2 separate regions of the Homo sapiens genome follow, and region 2 is linked to region 1. Evidence: fine-mapped expression QTL. A gene starts in region 1. The other region holds a variant in brackets. All regions are shown on one strand. Distances are between the middles of the regions. Region 1 holds the start of CCND1 (cyclin D1). Region 2 has its middle 18 kb from the start of MYEOV.

The links.
Region 2: its variant is fine-mapped to the expression of CCND1 in monocytes after LPS (Quach 2016, PIP 0.95).

The regions. Positions count from the first base shown.
Region 1 is chr11:69,634,863-69,646,357 of GRCh38, forward strand. CCND1 (cyclin D1) reads left to right here and starts at 6,294. Exons shown (of 5, transcript NM_053056.3): 1 at 6,294-6,649; 2 at 8,169-8,384; 3 at 8,970-9,129. The coding sequence starts at 6,452. RefSeq lists silencers at 3,162-3,365, 7,890-8,029, 8,120-8,179, 8,310-8,569 and enhancers at 3,178-4,118, 4,119-5,057, 6,565-7,267, 8,786-9,530.
Region 2 is chr11:69,306,258-69,317,752 of GRCh38, forward strand. No RefSeq gene overlaps it. Among named protein-coding and RNA genes, the nearest start is that of MYEOV, 18 kb to the left of the region's middle. RefSeq lists enhancers at 4,621-5,120, 4,962-5,191. The variant G/A (reference allele first, on the strand shown) is at 5,070.

The sequences.
Region 1 (11,495 bases):
TACACAATGGGTGCCAGGAACCTGGCCAGTCCATCCAGAGACAGGGCAGAGCCCTGGGCTACCGACCCTCTGGGGCCAGCAGAAACCCTCCCTATGGCTCTGCCTCTCATCCTGGCATTGACACTTGTGCCCTTAATTAAAGTGCTTCTTTTTAAAATCAACATTTCTACTCCTTTTGCAGAGTAAGAGAAAGAAGAGTTAGGGGAGAAGAAAGAAGGAAGGATTCATGGGGTTATTTTTTTTTTTTCATGTAAAAGTTTGTTCCGTGATTTAAATCTCATGTCCACAAACAGCTCAGGAGAAGTCAGCATAGAGAAGCAAGCTGACAGATTATAAAGTCATTTGTAAAATCCTCTTTCTGCATATAAACTGAAATGTGTAATTAATTCCACATACTGCGTGTGGCACATGGCCTTCATCCTGCATAAGAACAAATACATGAATGAATAAATCGAGCAGGCCTTGACACTCACCAGGCCCTGTGCTAAATGCTTTCTACATATTACCTTAATTACTCCTCACCGTGGCCTTGCGAAGAAAACGATCACAGCCCGTTTTACAGATGGGGACAGAGATTTGTCCAAGGCCACACAACTAGTGGCAGATGTAGGTCTGTATGTGACATTCTTGTTCAGTTTCATAAATGTGGCTGCCACCTGCCTGAAATTTTGAGGGAAAAAAAAGTGGTTTGGCTTTGCATGAATTCTTGAAAAAGTAGATTTTTATCTTTACCAGCTTCTAAGCAAGCTGGATTTATTCTGACAGTGTCCATGAAATGGCTACAGACCATCACCGTTGCCAATGTTGTGAACCTGAACAAGGCACCTGGTTTCTCTGTGCCTCGGTTTCCTTACCATTAAACGCATTTCCCTGAGATTAAGTGTGTGAAACTATAAGTTGGCTGGAGGAAACACCTCATAGAAGTGAGAAGATGAGGATGGGTGGTGAGTGAAGGCTTTTTCTCCAAACCCTACAGGAGATGGACCTCAAAGCAAATGGCCATGCTTCCCTTAGACTGGGTGAACTGGTGCTGCTCAGGGCTAGAAGTGTGTCTAGAAGCATGGGGACCAATGCAGCCCCCTCCACCCTAGGGCACATAACCTGTCTCTCTCCCATAGGATAGCAGAGACAGCTCTCTAAGTCAGGATTCAGCGAGATGGTCCAGGAGGGGCCTAAGGATTCCTCTGACTTATCCAAGCCTGGGGAGGCAACACAACCTAGCCTGTGTCTCAGGGGGCCCCAATCATGCCCTGAACCTCATGAGCCCAGGCAGGCATCCTGTTGGTTAAGGTCGGCCTCAGGGTCCAGGGATGCACTAGATTCTTTATCTTAAAGTGACCCTCAAGAAAAAAAAAATAAAATGTAGCTATAGGCAGTTTCTGGACGTTTTCCTATTTGTTAAGCACCTTCTTGCTCCGAGCTTTCCAGCCACAGTGCACTGGACGCCATCGGAAGGCTGCAGCTGCTATTTGGTGCTTTACCACCGCTGAGAAGGTGGAATGGTCACGGCCCGGTTCTGTCACTTTCTTCAGCCGGACAGTCGCCTTATTACGGATTCCAGTAGGGCCGAGCACACTCCTTCCTGCCCGTCTTTACAGATGAACATGCTATCGCTCCAGCAGTACAACCCGCCTTATTACGTAAAAAAGCAGCCCCTATCTACCCGCAGGGAAGGAGTATGTTCGGCACCACAGCTGGACTGGTGCTCGAGTTAAGCGTCCTGGGAGGTCCGCATGCGCTCCGGAACCGTAATGCGCGCTTTTTCTAAGCCTTACGGTAAACGCGGACGCAGGGCAACCACGTGGCGGTGGAACCGAGGCCCGGCGGGAATGCGCGGAATGCGCGGCGCGGCCTCGCGCGGTTCCCGAGCCACGGCCCAGGGTCCGGCGGCGCGCGCTCTCGCCTCCTCCCCTCACCTCTCCCAGCCGCACCCCGGCCCTGGCCCTGCCGCCCAGAACTCGCTGGGCAAGTCGTGCCCCGCGTGAACACACAGAAGGGGCTTGGGGACCGAGCGCGGCCCATCAGTCCCTCAGACCCTGAGGACCCAGAATTCCCTAAGGGGTCCGAATCCGAGTCCTGCCCCCAGCCCTTAAGGCACGGGCTCCAGGGACCCCAGGGGAAGGGCGCGGGGCATTAGGTACGCAACCCGTTTCCCCGCACCTGGAAAAAAACTCCCTTTCCCTCCCCTCCCCTGCTTGTTGAGTGTCCGGATAACCAGAACTCTAAGGCGCCCCGTAATAACGACCCCGCTGTCCCTCCACCCACCCCCAAGTGCCAAAGCGAGGGATGGAAGCGCTTTCAAGCGTTCCAAGGGCATTGAGGAGCGAGCTGGAGAGGCGCGGGGATGCGGGGTCCTCCCCGCAGTCTTCCGGAAAGGGCGGGGGAGGGCGCGGCAAGTTCCGGAGTGGGGCATGCCGTGGGAGCCCACGAGGGCCTCAGCGCGGATCCTCCGCCGGAAAACCGGCTCCCGCGAGCCGCCGCCGCAGGTTTCCTAGGCCCCGCGAGTCCCGCAGCGAAGCCCTGCGTCTCCGTCCGACGCGGGGGTCTGCTCAGCCTCGGGTGGGCCGCGGCCAGGCCTGACTGCGGGGGAGAGGGCCGAACGTGACCTCCGAGGTCACCCCCAGCCAGCTTTCTCTCCTGTGGTCGGAAGTGGTTTTCTTCTCGATCTGGGCGCCTACTCCCCACCACTTGGTCTGAGAGGGGCTGGGGCCGGAAGGCCAGGGAATCTCTGGTGGATTTGGGGGTTCATATTGCTCAGGGTACCAGCCGATGCGTTTTGAGGGGCGGGAGTCGAGGAATTAGAATCGCCTTTAACCCTCAAGAGTTGCGCCTTCAGCCTCGGGATCCCAGATGCGTCGTTGGAGCCAGGGCCGCCCCCCTACCTGTTGGGTTTGCGTTTTAACTCCAGCGCACACCTTGCCGGCAGCCCTCGGAGCTAGGGGAGGGGTCTCGTTTCCCCGCAGCCCGCCGGACAGACGACTGGGGCACGGGAGGGGCGGTGGCAGGGTGGTCTGTGTGTGGCTGAAACTAATTGATCTGGAGCGGAAACGCACGTCTGCGGTTGGGGCGATGGGGGGGGCGGTGCGGCTGTCCATGTGCCGAGCGTGTGGCTGTCTCGGGTGGGCACTGGGGCCGGAGTTCGCCCCGGCCCACCTCGCAGTTTTGGGGCGCCTGGGATCGGCGCTACGTAAGCGAAGCAGAGCTGCCATAGCACGTGGGCCGCCACGCGCACCCCAAAAGCAAGCAGTGTGGGGGGAAGGGGAGCTCGAGCGCCTTCGGAGCCCAGGGGCCGGCTTTCGGAAGCGTTTTCCCGGGCGACTTAAGGGCTTAACAATGGAAAACTCGCGGAGCCTGAGCCAAGTCCTTTCAAGTCGCCGCCAGGTATGCGGCTGCAGGTGACCCCACCTGGGTGCGCCCGCCCGCCAGCCGCCCTGGTGGAAAAGCGGGTGCGGGAGGTCGCTGGCGAAAGGTCGGGACTGGTCCCTGCACCACCCGCCCCCAACCCAAGCCCCGAGCCCCGCGGCGCGCAGCCGCGCTGAGTCCCGGGGTCTGCGTCGCGGCGCGCCGGTTCCTGAATGAACGCGCTCCCTTCCCCCGCCTGAATGAAGGTTCCCACAGCCAGGGACGGTGGCGAACACGCGCCTGCAGCGGAATTCGCTTTCTCCTGACCGACCATCCGCCCAGGCCGCGGTCACCGGGGCGGGGGCCAGGGGGCGAGGAAAGCGTGAAGGTGATTTCAGTTAATTTTGGATTTTCTTTCAAACAACGTGGTTACCCTCCCGACTGGGCCACTTGCCCTTTGTCTCCAAATGGTCACCAAGAAATAAGAACAGAGCACTTTAAATGAGCCCAGAATCCGCAGTTCCTGCTTCGTGGTGGGTTTTAAGAAGACAGTGTAAAGTAAAACTGCAACCGAAAAGTTTTTTAAAGTTGCTTTTCTCTTTGGAAAAAATAAAATCAAAATGCTTTCTCTGCGCTTCTTGAAGCAATGACCCTCAAAAGCCCAGAGGTATTGGCCCCCTCGGGGGACCCGGGGGCCGCCAAGCAGGGTTCCCCCAGGTGGGGGCTGGGCAGCTGGCGCTCCCCGCCGGGCCCCAAATTCCAGCGCCGGGCCCCAAATTCCAGCGCCTCCCCCGCGGGTTCCTGGACGGCTCTTTACGCTCGCTAACCGGGCTTGCAATTTTGCGCTCGTCCCTGAGCCGGGAAATCAACGAAGTTCCTAGTCGAGATCTGCCCGGTCCGCCTAGTAACAGCGCCGCGCCCCCATTGGCTCATGCTAATTCCAGTTTCCTCTGTCTTGCGCCCGGGATGGGGGGGTGAAGCTCCCTCCTGGACCCAGAGCCGGTTGTGCCGGAGTGGGCGAGCCTCTTTATGCCCTGCTGCCCCTAGCCGACTTCGGCCCGCTTCGCGCCTCGGGCTGGGCCAGGGCGCACGCGGGGCTCGGGGCCCCTCGCCCCACGGGATGGGAGAGGCCGGGTGATAGCTCCGGGCCCCATAAATCATCCAGGCGGCCGCCGGGTCGGGATTTTATGAATGAAAAAGCAGCTGGGCCGCCCTTGTGCGCGGGCTGATGCTCTGAGGCTTGGCTATGCGGGGGCCAACGCGATTGTGGGTGCTCGGGGAGTGGGGGGGGGCACGACCGTAGGTGCTCCCTGCTGGGGCAACCCATCGCTCCCCATGCGGAATCCGGGGGTAATTACCCCCCCAGGACCCGGAATATTAGTAATCCTAATTCCCGGCGGGGGAGGGGGCGCGGGAGGAATTCACCCTGAAAGGTGGGGGTGGGGGGGGTCGCATCTTGCTGTGAGCACCCTGGCGAAGGGGAGAGGGCTTTTTCTATCAGTTTTCTTTGAGCTTTTACTGTTAAGAGGGTACGGTGGTTTGATGACACTGAACTATATTCAAAAGGAAGTAAATGAACAGTTTTCTTAATTTGGGGCAGGTACTGTAAAAATAAAAACAAAAGTTAAGACAGTAAAATGTCCTTTTATTTTTTAATGCACCAAAGAGACAGAACCTGTAATTTTAAAAACTGTGTATTTTAATTTACATCTGCTTAAGTTTGCGATAATATTGGGGACCCTCTCATGTAACCACGAACACCTATCGATTTTGCTAAAAATCAGATCAGTACACTCGTTTGTTTAATTGATAATTGTTCTGAATTATGCCGGCTCCTGCCAGCCCCCTCACGCTCACGAATTCAGTCCCAGGGCAAATTCTAAAGGTGAAGGGACGTCTACACCCCCAACAAAACCAATTAGGAACCTTCGGTGGTCTTGTCCCAGGCAGAGGGGACTAATATTTCCAGCAATTTAATTTCTTTTTTAATTAAAAAAAATGAGTCAGAATGGAGATCACTGTTTCTCAGCTTTCCATTCAGAGGTGTGTTTCTCCCGGTTAAATTGCCGGCACGGGAAGGGAGGGGGTGCAGTTGGGGACCCCCGCAAGGACCGACTGGTCAAGGTAGGAAGGCAGCCCGAAGAGTCTCCAGGCTAGAAGGACAAGATGAAGGAAATGCTGGCCACCATCTTGGGCTGCTGCTGGAATTTTCGGGCATTTATTTTATTTTATTTTTTGAGCGAGCGCATGCTAAGCTGAAATCCCTTTAACTTTTAGGGTTACCCCCTTGGGCATTTGCAACGACGCCCCTGTGCGCCGGAATGAAACTTGCACAGGGGTTGTGTGCCCGGTCCTCCCCGTCCTTGCATGCTAAATTAGTTCTTGCAATTTACACGTGTTAATGAAAATGAAAGAAGATGCAGTCGCTGAGATTCTTTGGCCGTCTGTCCGCCCGTGGGTGCCCTCGTGGCGTTCTTGGAAATGCGCCCATTCTGCCGGCTTGGATATGGGGTGTCGCCGCGCCCCAGTCACCCCTTCTCGTGGTCTCCCCAGGCTGCGTGTGGCCTGCCGGCCTTCCTAGTTGTCCCCTACTGCAGAGCCACCTCCACCTCACCCCCTAAATCCCGGGGGACCCACTCGAGGCGGACGGGGCCCCCTGCACCCCTCTTCCCTGGCGGGGAGAAAGGCTGCAGCGGGGCGATTTGCATTTCTATGAAAACCGGACTACAGGGGCAACTCCGCCGCAGGGCAGGCGCGGCGCCTCAGGGATGGCTTTTGGGCTCTGCCCCTCGCTGCTCCCGGCGTTTGGCGCCCGCGCCCCCTCCCCCTGCGCCCGCCCCCGCCCCCCTCCCGCTCCCATTCTCTGCCGGGCTTTGATCTTTGCTTAACAACAGTAACGTCACACGGACTACAGGGGAGTTTTGTTGAAGTTGCAAAGTCCTGGAGCCTCCAGAGGGCTGTCGGCGCAGTAGCAGCGAGCAGCAGAGTCCGCACGCTCCGGCGAGGGGCAGAAGAGCGCGAGGGAGCGCGGGGCAGCAGAAGCGAGAGCCGAGCGCGGACCCAGCCAGGACCCACAGCCCTCCCCAGCTGCCCAGGAAGAGCCCCAGCCATGGAACACCAGCTCCTGTGCTGCGAAGTGGAAACCATCCGCCGCGCGTACCCCGATGCCAACCTCCTCAACGACCGGGTGCTGCGGGCCATGCTGAAGGCGGAGGAGACCTGCGCGCCCTCGGTGTCCTACTTCAAATGTGTGCAGAAGGAGGTCCTGCCGTCCATGCGGAAGATCGTCGCCACCTGGATGCTGGAGGTGCGGGGCTTCGGGCGGCTCTCTTAAGACTTCCCTGCAACTTGTTGCCCAGACCCACGTTTCTTTGCTACTCACCCCCCTCCCTTCTCTCCCGCTAGAACTTTGAAGTTTGCCGTGGTGTTTCTAGGGATCCGTATTTTCAAAATAAAAATTGCGGGTATTTTCTGAAGGAGGAAGGGGTGGGGGTGGGGGTGCTAGAAGTAGCGTTTCGTGGGAGGGGAGAAGGGGGTCCGGGAGGGGTGCCTTCGGGAGAAGCCAGTGCCAGGGGCACCCCAATGGGCCCGAGGGTGCGGGCTGGCAGGCTGGGTGCGCTTTGTGTCCCCCGCCTGCGCCCCAGCCCGGCTGCGCCTCAGCGGCCGGGAGCCGCCAACTCCGGGGGGAGGGGGCATAGATTTGATTTTTAAATTAATATCCATGGACACGTATGCAAGGGCCGCTCGTGCCAGTATTATGCGCCATCTTTGCTCTTTTATTGCAAAGCAAAAGTGTTTATTAATAATTGGGGGCAGGGTGGGGGCGGGGAGCGGCCGCCGGGCGCTGGGGCCGCAGCTAAGGGCCGCGCGGCTGCCGGGAGCCCGCGGGAGGGGCGCAGGGACGCGGCATGGGTAGTTTTGGGGGGACGCCGCTAGGGAAGGGGGGGCCTTTGTTCAAGCAGCGAGTCCCGGGGCGCCCCGAACGGGCAGCCTGGGCCGGAGAGCACGGCGAGCTGCAAGGTCGCGTGGCCCCCAAGACGCCAGGGCTTGATCCCCGTCTGCAGGGATATCGGCTTGGAGGACCTTCTCCGAGCGAGCCGGGGGCCTGGGAGCACATTTTCAGACCTTCGGTGGGCGCCTGAGGGGCCCGCAAGTATTTTAAAATAATTTTTGAAAGTGCGGCGTGGTGCCCTTGCGAGAGGGAAACGCCGCCCGCGCCCAGGGGGAAGGGGGGGCCCCGGAGTTTGAATTCCTGGGGCTCCCCCCGGAGCCTGTAACGAACTCCCAACCCCCGGCCTGGGTAAAGGGTCGCCCGAGGGTCATTTTCAGGGTTTTTTTATGCACTTAGTTATTTTTTTAATATTTTTAAATATTTTTTGAAAAGATGACGTCTGGGGAAATGCGGCGCGGCGGCCTGGGACGCCACCTTTGTGTCTCGCAGGCGCGGCGCCCAACCCCGCGGCCCGTTCCGCGGCCCCGCACCCCAGTTGGTGTCGACCCCCAGTCAGAGGGACCACGGAGCTCCAGGGCGGGCCAGGGTCCCGGGGGCCGGCAGCCCGCGCCGCCGCGCACGCCGCCCAGCTGTGCCCGCTCCCGCCCCCACCGTGCCAGCCTCGCGGGGACTTTCCCTTTCAGTTTCGGGGAGGGTGGGTACTGGGGACGCGCGGGGGAGGGGGCGCATCACGGGAAGCTCCTGCCGCCCCCAGCCCCGACCCCTCGGCGCCCTCCAGACCTGGCGGCCCTGCCAAGCGCGATGGGGGGTGCGGGGGCGTGCGGGGGGGCGGCGCGACCTGGCGGCGGCGGTCACGGGCCCCGTGCCTCCGTAGGTCTGCGAGGAACAGAAGTGCGAGGAGGAGGTCTTCCCGCTGGCCATGAACTACCTGGACCGCTTCCTGTCGCTGGAGCCCGTGAAAAAGAGCCGCCTGCAGCTGCTGGGGGCCACTTGCATGTTCGTGGCCTCTAAGATGAAGGAGACCATCCCCCTGACGGCCGAGAAGCTGTGCATCTACACCGACAACTCCATCCGGCCCGAGGAGCTGCTGGTAACCACTGGACCCCGCCGCCCCCCGCCCCCCGCGAGCCGCACGCAGGACCACGGGGCCGGGGAAGGTGCAGGCGGTGGCGGCCGGCCCGCCTCTGACATATCTGCTCCTCCGAGGGAGGGCGGCCCCGCCGCCGGGCGTCCCTGTCCGGGGAGCGGGCGGGATCCTAGCCGCCCTCGTCCCGCCGCCCTGTGTGCGCTTGCCTGCGACTCCCACCGCGTTCGCGCCCCGCGGTGTGGCCGAAAAGTGGGCGGCGCGCGCCCTCCAGCGGCTGCACGAGGAGCGCCGCGCTCGGCGCTGAGCCTCCAGTTCCAGGTGGTGGGAGGTCTTTTTGTTTCCACTTGCAGAGTCTTTTCACGCGGCGGGCGCCTTTTCTGTTTTGATCTGGGATTGCGTGTTGCCCCAGCTCCCTTGAGTCCCCAGCATTCGCCAGCCCTCCCCTCCAACATCCAGGACCGCACGAGACGCAGGGGCCAGTGCTCTGAGCCGGAGGTGCGGCGTGGCCCGGCCCCCGTGCTGCCGGCTTCCCCGCGCCCCCGGGCTGGCCCGCACCTCCCCTGATGGCCGCTCACCCTGTGTTCGCAGCAAATGGAGCTGCTCCTGGTGAACAAGCTCAAGTGGAACCTGGCCGCAATGACCCCGCACGATTTCATTGAACACTTCCTCTCCAAAATGCCAGAGGCGGAGGAGAACAAACAGATCATCCGCAAACACGCGCAGACCTTCGTTGCCCTCTGTGCCACAGGTAGGGCAGGCCCGGCAGCCCCCGGCCTCCCCTTGAGAGCCGGCTCCTTAGGTGACCCTGGCCGGCTTCTTGCTCTCCACCTGGGTGCTGTCTGGGAAGATGTCCCCAGACCCCCTCCTGCGCTGGAGAGCGCTCTTCCAGCTCTGGTGAGCAGAGGCCCTGGATTGTTTGTCGCGCTGGATGGAGGGAGATTTGCTCCCTCACGGCCACCATGCAGTACCTTGGGCATTGGTGTGGACGGCTCAGCCTGCCTGTGTCCCGTTACTCTGGCCTCGTCCTTCAGGCCAGGCAGCCTGTGGCCACTCCATGCTGAAAGGGGTTTACCTTGGCCACAGGGCCGCCTCCTTTCTCCACCCACCTCCAGCCCTTCTTGTGTCCTTAAGGAGCCTGAGCTGCAGAGGCCCCCTCCTGGCCTCTCCCAGGCTGGGCCACCTGCCAGAGGCGCCTCCAGGGGCGGGGAGAGCTGTCGGCCTGCCTGCACCACGTGCTCTGGGCAGCCGAGTGCAGGGGTGTCCAGCAGAGGAGCTCGGCTGCCTGAGGCCCTGCCAGGGGTGCCGGCAGCCAGCCGGGCTCAGCTGAGCCCTGAGGGGGCGCTTCAGAGCACTCTCAGCTTGGGCCGCCACCGTGGGCAGCAGAAGCACCCAGTCCTCACTTCCCCTGGCATGGCCCCAGAGGCCCCTCCCTGACATGGCCTTGGCCCCAGAACCCAGTGGGGACAGACTCGCACATACACAGGGTGCCGCCTCCTGCTGTCCCCAGCCCTGCCTCTGACCCCCCTGTGACCGCCTCCTTCCCTGGCCCAGGAGGCCTGGTTACCTTCATGGGGGAGCATGGCCCCATCCCACCCAGCTCTGCTGTGGCCCACCTTTGGTCAAGCCTCAGTTGTCACATCTGTTTGGGGGCTCACTCTGGGTGACCTAGGCCACAAGGCCCACGGGGCATCAAAGAGGCAGTAGCATCTTCTCCCCTCCCCAGAGGGCAGAGCCCCCCAAGCCTACTTCAGAGCTCCCTTCTGACACCGGTAGCCCGCAGCCGGTATTCCAGAATGGGTTCTGGTTTAGGCGTGAGGCCTCCCCCACCTCCTCCACCTGCTTGGGGCATGAACCCCTCCCCCACGTTTCCAAGCGAGTCCCCAAGGTGGGCAGATGAAGATGCCAAGGATGTCGACCAGTCTGGATGGGTCTGGGGTGGGGGGGCATGCGGCAGACAGGGAGGCATTCTCTGGCTGGTGCTCCTCAGAGGAGAGAGGCCTCCGGAGACTCCAGACAGCCTTTTATGGAGCTGAAAGTGGCTTCAGAGAAATGCAAAGTTTCCTGGAGAGAACGTGGGGCGTGGTTCTTGCACAGCCTCCCTACAGGGTGGCTCCAGCAGTGGAGCTCCCCTCCCAGGACCCCTGGGTGCTAGTGGGAGGCAGTGGGCAGGTGCAGATTCTCGTCCTTCCCACTACTGCACACCCTTTGTCTGCGAAGGCGCCCCCAGCGGTGGGTGAAGGAGGAGGGACACTTGGGGACCCAGCTGTGCACGTGCTCTCAGTGACTGTGGAGTCCACTCCAGGGTGGGTCCCGAGGGAGGGGCAGGAGACCAGGGGACCCACCCCTGCAAAGTGCTCCGGGTCCTGACCCGTGGCCACCCCATGGAACGTAACTGAGCAGCCAGTGCCTTGTTCCTGCTGGACATCTGTGGAGACAAGAGTGACTTACGGCTGCTTAAAGTCAGAAACAGGTTGAAGGAGGTGGAGGCGTGGGAAAGAGTCTAGGAAGGTGTTTTTGCCCTCCACGTGGCAAAGGTTACATTTAAAGGTGATGCTGGGTGTTCTCCCTGCACTAGGCATTCCTGGCCCCAGGTCCCCAGCAGGTGTGCACATGCTGCATACACTCACGCATGGGGGTTTCAGGGCAGGTGCGCCCTTGGCTCCGTGGGAGGCCAGGTGAGGAACGTCCAGTGCCAAGGAGCTTCCGGGACAGCTGTCACTTCCCTTTACAACCAGGCAGCGGATAGGGTCAAATCCTGGAGCTTTGGTGTCTAATTCTGGGTGGCTCCTAATCTAAGCACAGACAGCACCACACACTGGGGTGGGGGCACGAGCTTCTGAAACAACGTGGCCCCAGTGACTCCACGCTGTGTGTGCCCCTGGAGACGGGGGGGTGCACAAGGTGCGGAGCCAGCTAGAACCTGTCGCTCCCTGCAGAAGCGGTTTCTGTGTGCGGTTCTGATTTGCCTCAATGAGAAGGTTTTCATTCATGGCTCCCGGCTCTCAGACTGGGTGGAACTGCTCCCATTTAAAGGGGAAAAGAGGTGGCTCGGCTCGTTAAGGATTTCTTTTTCTAAGTTGTTACGGCGCCCAGCAGCCGGCTTTGTCTCCCCTT
Region 2 (11,495 bases), 330 kb before region 1:
AAGGGGCCTGACCCACAGGCACAGAGTTGGGTGCTGCGGGATGGCCAGGAGCTTGGGTCTCCTTCCTTCCCACCACACCAGTAGGAGCCGGATGCTGGCAGGTGGCTTGGGGATGCCCCTTCACTTTGCTGCCGGGAAGTTGGCTGCAGAGTCCAGGGCTCATAAAAGCAGCCAGTTGAGTGAGAATGCACTGGTTCAGAAGCCAGTGGGCCCCTAGCTCCTCACAGTGGGCCCCCTTGGCCAGGCCAACAGGCCATGTCTCCTAGCCAACCTTGGGTCTGGCCCCCAAAGATTCATTTCTATCCGCAAAGTGCCTGCCCTCCACCTTGTTCAGCAGCCTAAGCCCCAGTGACCATTGGCCACCCGAGATAAGGGCCATCCTTGCTCCCTCCATTCCCTAATACTCCTGAGGCCCTGTGCACCTGCCCCACGATGGGGGCTAGAGTCCCCAAGAACAATAAGAACCTAGCTCTTGTCTTGGGAAACCTGGCAGGATTTCCCAAGTCACCCGAATGCCCAAGCTATTAGAGACTATGTTTGCCCTGAAGAAGAAAGAATCAGGCTGAAAACAGAGCAGGTAGCAGTGGGGGAGTGAAGACTGAGGTCCTTCCAGGACCACCAATGCCCTCACGTCCTCCCGCTGGGGTCCAGTGTCCCCTCCCCTCCTCCTGTGCAGAAGCCACCTCCCTGGGCCTTGGTTCCATCCTTTGTGAAGTGCAGTGACCAGTGGTTGCCATGCAGGGGATGCTTGCTGAAGTGTGCCATGGTGCCCAGCACAACACAGTGGGCAGAGGGCAGCCCATCAATACCACTCGCTGCCTTTGCTGCTCACGGTGAGTCTTACCTAGGGCAGTGCAGCGCTCCCTCACATCACCCTTCCTTGGCCCCAACCTCAAAACTTAGGACTTGGTTTCCCCTTCCCACTGTCTTTGATCAGTGCCAAAGGACCAGGCAGGACCAGTGTCAGGAAAGGGGCTGGGACATGAACGGGCTGCTCATTGAAGGTCACACATTTGCAATTTGATGGAGACAACAGGGTCTTCACGTGCCAAGCAGAGTAGCTCTGTAGCAATTCTGGGCACCCCAGCAGGTGAGGGCGGGGCTTTGCTGGAAGACAGTGCCAGCTCCCACAGAACCCTAACGAGGTTGAGCAGGAGGGGTCCTCCGTGCTTAGATGTAACACAATACCCTCGTTTTCTGGATGGGGAAACTGAGGCTCAGGGAGCTCGCTTGTCTTCTCTACACCCCAGGGTGTGCTGGGGCAGCCCTGTGCCTGTGATTCTGGGGCCCAAGTTAGCCCCGCAGCCCATGTAGGTGGCAGAACAGCCCAGATGAGCACTGGGGCCAGAGCTGGGGCCAGCTCTCGGGGTTGTGGGGGGAAATGCTACAGGTCTTGTGCTAACCACTGAGAGACTCCCAGCCCACCTTTGCTGTTCCTTTCATCCCGGTCCCTTGGGGGGAGGTTCTGGGTCCTGCCCAACCAGGCCCAGGAGGGTTTGGGACTGGCCAAAGCAGGAGGCAGGATAGGAAGCTTCCTCTGTTCCTCTCATGGGGATCACATGCTCCCGAAATTGTCCAAGCCATCTTCCTTCTCCCAGCTCAGAGGCCATCTCTTCCAGGAGGTCCACACACATCATCCTGGCCAGGAAGAGGGTCTCCCACACCCTCTGTGCCTTGGCCGTCGTCCTCTTTATCATGTCTTGTGGATTCGTTATTTTAATCAGTTATTGGCCAAACAAACCCCTCTCACACCCGAGTGCACAGCTCGTGCCAACAGCACTGCAAAGCATGTGATGTCCCCACCCCTTCCACACGGCATTCAACACCTGACCACTCCCTGCCACAGCCCCAGTCCTCTCTGGTCCAAGCTGCCCTGGCTTCCTGCAGGGGCATCTCCATGGCCCTCGATCTGTTAACATCTGAGCCTCGACCCTGCCCTTCCTCTGCTCACCCTCCAAGGGTTCATCTCAGAGGAGGCAGCAAAGTCCTCTGCGGGCCTGCCCCTCCAACCTCATCTTGCCTCTCCCGACCCTGTTCCTCCACTCCAGCCGCTATGGCATCCCTGCAGCTGCTCATACTTTTGGGGCAGCTGATACCCCAGGCCTTTGCCCTGGCTGGGCCCTCTGCCTGTGACGCTCTTTCCCAGACACCCATGTGATTTGCTTCCTCCTCTTCTTCAAGTCTTTGCTCAAATGAAGGCCTGCACAATGAGCCTTCCCTGGCCCCCTATTTATAGTTGCCTCTCCCAATATTTTGGAGCACTTGGCACCATCTGACATGCTGGGCCTCTGTCCGTGAGCAGGCCAGCTTCTGGGTGGCAGGGATTTGGGCTGTGCATTCCCTGCTCTCACACCACTCCTACAACCATGCCTGGCACGTCATAGGAATGCCAACAAGCCATGTAGGGTGAAGGCGGGAGTAGCCCTGTGGGCTGGGTCATGCGGTCTCCTACATTGTATATGTGCAGAAGCTGCAGCCACGAGGCCTGCTTGAGGTTGCCTGGCTCTTGCTCCTGCGGGTCTGAACCCAGCTAGATGTGACTGTAAGTCCCAGCTTTCCAAAGGCTCCCACTGCCTTAGGTGCACAGTGTGCCACCTAGCACGGGAAGTGGAGCCCGCCAGGCAGCACCTGGGATACGGGCTGCTCCAGGGATGCCCTGGGAGGAGGGGATGGGGATGCATCCCAGGGAAGAGGTTCCTGGGCTATGACGGGGGTGCAACTCAGCTTCCCCTGGGGTCGGGGAGTGGGAAGACCATTCTGAGAGTGGGAACAGCTCTTGCAAACATGGCCGACATGCAGGTTGGGGCAGATTTGGTGATGAGTGCCTTGGGCCTGATTGGAGGTCCCGTGGGGGTGGGTGGCTGTGGGGCCCCCAGGCAGGGCCTGAAGCAGGCGGAGGGGGTGAGTGGGGGGTTCTGATGGGCCACTGGGAGTGGCCTGAAGTGCACTGGAGCAGGAGGTGGCATTGTCCGGATCCTGTTTGAAAGACCCCTTTTCTGATAGAAGGAGGGCAGATTGCCGGGTGAGTCAGGGGTGGTGGCAGCTATCTGGGCAGAGGCTAGTGTGGGGTGGGAGGCGTGAGGCAGATGTGAGAGCTCAAGGAGGGAGACTACATGCAGCTCAGTGACCTGGGTCTCAATGTGTTCCCAGGTTTGCAGCTGGGGCAACTGGAAGCAGGAGAGGGACCTGGAGAAAGGAAGGCAAAGAGGTGGGTTCCTTTTGGGGCACACTGAGGTTGAGCTGCTTAAGAGACTCCCACGGGTGAGGCAGAAGCCTTGAGCTGCTGGGTTAGCAGCTCCGGGCTCAGGGGAGATCTTGGCCAGAGAAAAATTCTGGGGGTCCTAGTATTCACATAGTGACTTCAGCATGGAGGGGGCAAGGTCCCTCCAGAAGCAGGTGTCTGGAGGAGAGAGGGCTATGGCCTCCACTCCAGGCCCAGCTGGCCCCTAACGGACCCTCCCGCCCGCAGCACCTGCCCTCAGGGCCACAGGGGGCTGCTGGCACCTGGCTCGCTGGGAATGCTCCAGAGGTCCCCTGTCTGCTGCTCATGATTTCACAGACTTGGCAACCAGGACAGGATTGCTATTATTTTTCACCAGAAAACAATGTATGGATTTTGGGCTCTTGCTGATGATTCTAGAGGAAAACAGCTGAGAGGATGCGTGTTTTCAAGGGAACATTCCTCTTTGGACTCGGTCCACTCAGTGTCCTCTTGGAAAACCACAGGGAGGGCTGGAAACAGTCTTAGACTCACATGAGGGGGAAAGGGAGACCAGATCCTTCTCCCAGCTCTGCTTGTGGCTCTCTGTGTGATCCCATGAAGAGAGGAGGAGCAGTGACTCTCACCTGAAATGCTCCCAGCCAAACATGGCCTAAACCAAACGGGATGGCCTCCCTGCCCCTATCCTGGTCCTCCATGGGCTGTCCCCATCTCATGGAATGGGGCCAAGCCTCACACATGGGTGTCACACGTCCTTCTGGGGATTCCTGTCCCTTGTATCTCTTGAATCAGGCTCTTAGATTCTTCTGCTTCATTCCATCATTGTAACCTCCTTCCACGACTCTCAAATCCGTCTCCTTCTCCATATCTCCACTGCCGTCCCTATGTTCCTCTCTGCCTTTGGCTCTGCACGGTACGAGCAGGTGGTCTCTGTCCAGCCAATGTGGGCCCTTTGCACACTGGTGTGAGTGCTTCTAAGTCTCGTTCCAGCTCTCAGTTCGGCCTCTCCCAATCTCCTTGTGTCTTCCCACAGCATGTGGGAAAAGACTAGGAGGACGGCACTGGGGCCACAAAGATAAGTCCATTGTCCCTGCACTCCAGGGATCTGAGCCCCGTGGGCCCCCGGCATGAGTATAATGTGGAAAGGAAGCCTGCGGAAAGGCTCCAAGAGGACGGTACGTTAGAACTGGGTCTCGAGACATGGGTGTCTGGGCCGTAGGGGTGCAGAAACCAGGTCCTGACTTGGCCTGGATGCAAGTGCCAGGGGCTGTTCTGTCTCTGTCAGCTCCAGGACCATTCAGGGGTGGCACAGAGCTTGGGAAGGAATGAATAACAGTCCTGGACATTATGCCAACATTCAGTGAGTGCCTACTGTGTGATCCAGTAGACCCTGGGTGATGTATTAACTTGCCAGTCCTCCCAGTAACCCAGATTAGTCCCAGTCTGCAGACGTGGAGGTGGAAGCTCAGAACAGTTCGGTCACTTGCTTGAGGCCACACAGCGAGGGGGGCAAAGCCAGGCCACCTGCTCCAGAGCCTAGGCATGGATGGGGGTGGAGGGGAGTCCTGAGCCGGGGGGTTCTTTGCTGCCTTTGGGCAGGGTGGGCACAGAGGTCCCAGTCTCGCTCTTGGCCACGCCGAGTGCTCCCTTCCGCTGACTGTGGCTGTAGTACCGACAGGTGTCTCTATTGATGCTACAGCCCCCACCTTTCATTGTCTCTGGGACAAAGGCTCCTCGGGCTCCTAGCTTTGGGACAAGACTGTGGCTGCTCCCTGCCATTGGCTAGGCCTCCCACTGGGGCCTCCTGCCCACTACCTCCCCATGCCTTGTGGCAAGCCTGTGAGTCAGC[G/A]TACCCATTTCACAGCAGGGACACAGAAAGCCCCTGAAACCAGGGACTTTCCCAGCACAAGAGTGTCCAAGACTAGAATCCAACTTTGTCTCGGTCCAGCCACCTGCAGAGTGACCCATGCGGATAGTTGTCAGCCCTTGCTGAGCCATCCTTTGTTTCCTGTTCATACTTTCCCATAAGTCACAGAATCCTCCAGGCAACCCAGTGATGTAGGCACTGTCACTATTCCTTCCTACAGACCTGGAAACTGAGTCACAAAAAGCAAGCTGCTTTCCCAGACCCCACTGCTCTGCTAGGTGGAGGCCAAGCTCGTGTGTGAACCCAGACCGCTGCTCTGAACTTCTCCACACCACACTGTGTAGAGGAAATAAGAGCTGGGAGACTTCTGCCTTCAGGGACTGTGTTTTTCCAAGAAGCCTGGAGGAAAGGATCTAACATTTATTGAGCACCTACTAAGTGCTGGCTGATCTCATAGCATTACTTTGCAAAGTGAATATTCTTCATCTTATTTTATAGATGAGGAAATGAGACTCAAGGAAGCAATATTGACTTGTTCCAGGTCGCCTAGCTAGTGAGGACGCGAGGAGAGGCAAGACTCTCCCCAGCCTGGGACCCCAGGGACCCTGCTAGTGAGGACGCCTGCTCCAAGCCTGGCCCCTCCAGGGAGGCTAGCTCTCACTAGCAGGGCAGCCTCCTTCCTTCTCCCTCCTTCCCGCCTCGGGAGAATTAAGTGGTAAATGTTTTCAAAGTCAACTGTCAAAAGAAAATGGTTAGAGGAAGGAAATGTGCAATTAGGAGCTTCAGAGTAATTTTCATCGTGTGGTTTGAGCTCGACTGTAAACACTCAGGAAGGAGAGAACGCGGCTGTTTCCCCCCCGGCTGGTTTCCTGCCAACTCTGCTGAGTCCCAGAACCGGGTGGGCTCCAGGCTGAGGCACTAGCAGGGAGGCCGGTGGGCAGCCAGCCTTGGACTGGGGAGGTGCTGGGGGCTGTGGGACACTCCCATTCCCAAGAGAAGCTTCTTCCAGCAGAATGTGCCGGCATTACAGAAAGGAAATATTAACATTATAATTATAATTCTGTTTATTTAATTAAGTTATTAAACAGGCCCAGCTTGGGGCGGGGCAGGGGGGAGAAAAAAAAAAAAACAACCCATAGTTTCATTCTAATTGTTTCTCCCAGGATGTAATTAGAGCCTTATAGAAGGAGTCAGAGCCAGAGAAGGCAGGGGCTCTGCCAGGCTGGGTCCAGGCCTGGTGCACAGCTCCGGGCAGGCTGGGCCTGGGGGAGTGGAAGGTAGAGGCTGGCTGTGGGAATGCAGCCTCTATGAGGGCTGGAACTCAGGCCTGTGTCCCCATGCCTGGCATGTACTAGGTGCTCAAGAAATAGTTGTGGAATAATTGCCTAGTGGACTTTGAGCAAGCAGAAAGGGCTGGTGGAGTGACTTTCTCAGCTGCCCTAAAGACATTCAGCAGATGATTTTTCTAGAAGGGATGCAGCAGCCTCCTCCTGGGGCTGCTCTTGGCCATTACCTCTGCTCTGACCTCCCTGGTGGCCCACCGTGGCTTGCAGGTGACCACACCGAGCAGCCTGTCTTAGATTGAGACCTTCACCTCTTCCTTCTGTGCCCTGGTCACTGTGGGCTGAGCCCTGGGGCAGAACAAACAAATGTCACCAGCTCCCAGGCTCCAGTGTGGAGGCTGCCCCTGTGCATCCCAAAGGGACGGGAGTATGAGGGCCCCAAAGGGTTCAGGAGGCTAAAACCCCTACTCCAGGTCCCCCAGTCTGAGAAGCCCTTTCTGGGACCTTGGACCAGGCCCAGCAGAGCCCCTCTTGAGGGGGCCAAGGGAGGCGCTGGCCCTGAACAGCCTCCAGATCCGGTCCTGTGCCCCTCGCGCTGACAGCTGCCCACAGGCTCCATGCAGAACCTCCCGTCAGACGGGAAGTGTCTTGTTCCAGCTGGCACGGCTTTATCGAACAGTCCTGGCTTTGTAAGTGTGGACAGCTGCGGGGAGAGGAGCTGGCTCTGGGGAGGTGTGGGGGCCGGGTCGGGGGCTAGACTGGGGAAGCTGAGGAGTGGGAGGTCAAAGCCAGCAGCATCTGCAAGTGGGTTGGGGGCCATGAAGGTTTGGTTTAGGGGGCATCCCCTGGAAAGCCGAGCCCCTAAACAGGAAGATGGGATGGGAGGCCAAATTGGGGAATGACCATGAAAGAGAGAGAGGTGTGTGGGGGGGAAGATGGGAGGGGCTGACGTGGCCTCCAGCGCTTGCTCAGCTCTGGTACAGTCAAGAAGCTGTCTTCATATGGGCCACACTGAGGCACCACAAAACCAACAACTTCAGAGAGATGGTAGGGCTTCTATATGCCACCTACCCACCCATCCACCCATTCACCCACTCATCCACCCACACATCCATCCATCCATCCATCCATCCACCCATCCACCCATCCATCCATCCATCCATCCATCCATCCATCCATCCATCCATTCATCCATCCATCCATCCATCCATCCATCCATCCATCCATCCATTCATCCATCCATTCGTCCATCCACGCATCCATTCATCCATCCATCCATCCATCCATTCATCCATCCATCCCCCCCATCCATCTAACCACTCATTCACACACACACACATATCCATCCATCCATCCATCCATCCACCCATCCATCCATCCACCCATCCATCCATCCACTCATTCGCCCATCCATCCACCCACCCATCCACCCATTGGTCCATCCATCCACCCATCCATCCATCCATCCATCCATCCACCCACCCTTCGGACTCATCCACTCATCCATCCACCCCTCCTTGTACCCATCCATCTACTAGTACATCTATCCATCCATCCATCCATCCATCCATCCATCCATCCATTCATCCATTCACCCATCCATCCACTAATTCATCCATCCATCCATCCATCCATTCATCCACTCAACCATCCATCCTTCCATCCATCCAACATTCATACAAGACTTGCACTAGGGCACATCTTCTACTGGCCTCCAAAGACCCAGAAAATAATCAAATTGTCCCTGCCCTGTTGGGCATATATAGACACTTCCAGTGTGTATATATGAGCAGTGGAGGCAGGGGAGACAGAAGACAAATAAATCCCCCTGATAGGTCAGGAAACTTCTATAACTAAGAAGATGTAAACCCACCCACTCACCCTAAGCCTCAATTTCTCATCTGAAAAGTGGGGATAAGGTAGTGCAATGGTGAACTGCTATAGTGTTAGATGAGATGATAGACACAAGGTATTTGTTACTGTGCCTGGCATGGAAGGTGCTAAGTAACTGTTATGATTATTTTTAGCATCACCATTTCCATCATTATTCTCTCTGTCTGAAGAGAATAGGAGGATGAGAGTGGGCAGTTTAGGAAAGCCTTCTCAAGTGGGGTCATTTGGACTGGGTGTTGAAGGATGAGTAGGAGTTCATTGGGTACTAGTATTGTGCTTCCCCACTAGCAGCCCACATTCATACTACACTCATCCCTGCCTTTGCATCATACTTCTCACCCTTACTCCTCCTCCCCAAGGCCCCCTTCCTTTAGGTCCACCTCTAACCCTAACTCCTCCAGGAAGACTTCTTGCCTACCCCAGGCATTATCTTGCTCCTTCCTCTTGTCTTGTGGCACAAAGATCACACCACACATCAGGCCCTCAGAACTTCATTCTGAATTTTGAAATGCTTCAGCTGACTCTTCAGGATGGGGCAGAGTCTTCTCCTCAAATCCCTTATATCTGGAGCCTCAGAGCTGGATAAATTTGTTGACTCTGCCCCAGGGGACAGCCAACAGTGACCAGGGCACAGAAGAAAGAGGTGAAGGTCTAAATCTAAGTCCCAAGAAGGTGTAGACCTATCTACAAACAGGAGCAGCCTCCTAGGACTTTGCCTGCATCTGCCTACAAGGTTAATGCAGTTCCTACCTGGAGCAGCTCACAGTATAAGGAACAGAGGGAAGAGGAGGACAAGGCTGGGAGTTTCTCTAGCATAGATTTCATGTCCTGGTTAAACTTGGGTCTTCAGCACCAAGCACAGAGTGGGGGCTAAGAATCATTGGATGGATGGGTATGTAGGTGTATGTGTATGGTTAGAAGGATGCATGGAAGGATAAGTACATGGATGGATATATGGATGGATGGATGGATAATGGTTGGATAAATGGATGATGGATAACTGAATAGGTGGGTGGATGGGTGATGGATGGACAGTTGGATGTGTGGATGATGGACAGATGATTAGATGAATAAGTGGAAAGTTAAACAATACAACTAGAATCTTTAGATTCTGATTAAACCATAGAAGCAGGAACTTTGAGACTGTATAGATCAACCCAAATTAATTTACCTGATCAGTGCTTCTGAGTGTCTCTTTTTGCCAGATATTGTATGAGGTGCTGGGGATACCACAGGGAACAAGATACAATCCATGACCTCATGGAGCTTGGCATCTAGTTGAGAAGCTAGGAAATATGCAAATAAAGCCCAAACAAAATGTTTTAAAGGTGATGACTGCCTGAAGCTTACTGGGGGGCACTTTAGTTAGGGGCATCAGGGAGAGTTGATGAGAGGATAAGATTGGAACTGAGGACTGAATGGCAAGAGTCAGCTGTATGAAGATCTGGGGAAGACATGAGAACAGTAAGTGCACTGGTCCTGAGGCAGGAGCAAAGTTGGACTTGTTCAATAATGTAAAAAGATTTGAGTACTTGGAGTGGAATAAGAGAGGGAGCTGTGGCCTGAAATAGCAATAGAGAAACAGGACAGGGCAGATCACACTGGACTTTGTAGGCCATGGCCAGAGGCATGGATTTTGTTCTGTGTAGGTTGGAAGGCACAGGAGGGTGTTAAACAGGAGGAGGAATGGTCTGAGTTCTGTAAAGGATCACTGTGGCTACTCCATGGGGCTATACAGAAAGGCACGTGAGGGGAAAGCAGGAAGGCAGTGAGAGGGCATCACCATGGACCAGGCTAGAGAGGGAGGTAGTGCAGCTGGGGAGATGGGGCAGGTTCAGGACATGTTTGAAGGCACAGACAACAGAGTTGATTTATGATTTGGCTGTTGGGGAGAAGGATGCTTCCCAGCCGTTTCACCTCAGCAACTGGACTGGCCTAACCCTAACCGTAACCCTAACCCTAGCTGCCACCCACCCCCTACTCCTCTGCTGAGACTCACTGGAGCCTTGACCTCCCAGGTTCAAATGATCCTACCACCAATTGCTATGGTGATAGAGTTGTTGTTTCTGATGATGGTGGCTGTGGTAGTGGTTTATTTCCTCCATCAGCAGGCTCTTCCACCATGACAATGAGCCATTTCCAGCCATTTTCAGGGACTCTGGAAGAAATTGGCTTGAAGAACAGCTGGACACACATCCAGTCTCAGAGCCTAGAGGTGAAGCACACGGACTCTGGAGTCAGAGAGACCTATGTTTGAATCCTGGTCCTACCACTTTCTCTCTCATCCTTATGTTAGTCACTTGACTTCTTTAGGTCTCTGTGTTGTCACCTGGAAAATGGAACTTTCCACCTCCTCGGGATGTTATGATGATAGATGTAACAAGCTCAGCACAGTGCCTGTACAGGTGAGAGCTCAGATAAAGACTCTGCTGTTAACAATTACCTCTCCTCTGATGGGGAGTTTATCACCCCATCTCAGCAGCCCTGCTCCTGTTCCTAGTTCCAACAGGCCCTGGGAACTGGGTTGCCAAGACCAGCTCCTGACAGCTGCCACCCACCCCCTACACTCCTCTGCTGAGGTTCCGGAGCCTAGGGGCATGGGGCATTGCGAAGGCCTCACTGGGTTTAGAATCGAGCAAGATTATAGAGCACATTTTGCAAGAGTGGGAGGAGGTGGAAGTAGCCCAATTCATAGTAGCTTTCCCAACCCGTGGCTCTAATTGGCAGAGAACATCCCCTAAGGCACCTCTATGCTCCATGAGGAGCTTGTAATTAATAGGTGGGGATCCTGAGGGGCAAGGTTGACAAGGCTATGCTTGGGGGATGGAGCCCTCTGAGGGACGGGATTGAAAGGGTGTTTGCAGTCACATAGCCTGTCTAGGGATCAGTGTTTGTTTGTTTGTTTGTTTGGTTGGTTGGTTGGTTTTACCTCCCCAGTGGGGCATAGGCTGAAGTAAGGATCACACCAGTGTCCACAGGCTTCCTGCATGAGTTCCTCCATCCTTACCTCTGTACTGATGACTTGCAGACCTCTCTCCCAGCCTGGCCTCCCTCCTGAATTTCAGAGTCATGTCTCCCAGTGTATGTGTTAATGTCTCTGTTTGGATACCCTACAGACATCATGGTGTGTTTCAAACTAAGGAATTCATTATCTCATTCAGTGACTTTTTCATTTCAGTTGTTATTTTCAGTTCTAGAATTTCCATTTGGTTCTTTTGATTGTAGTTTTTGT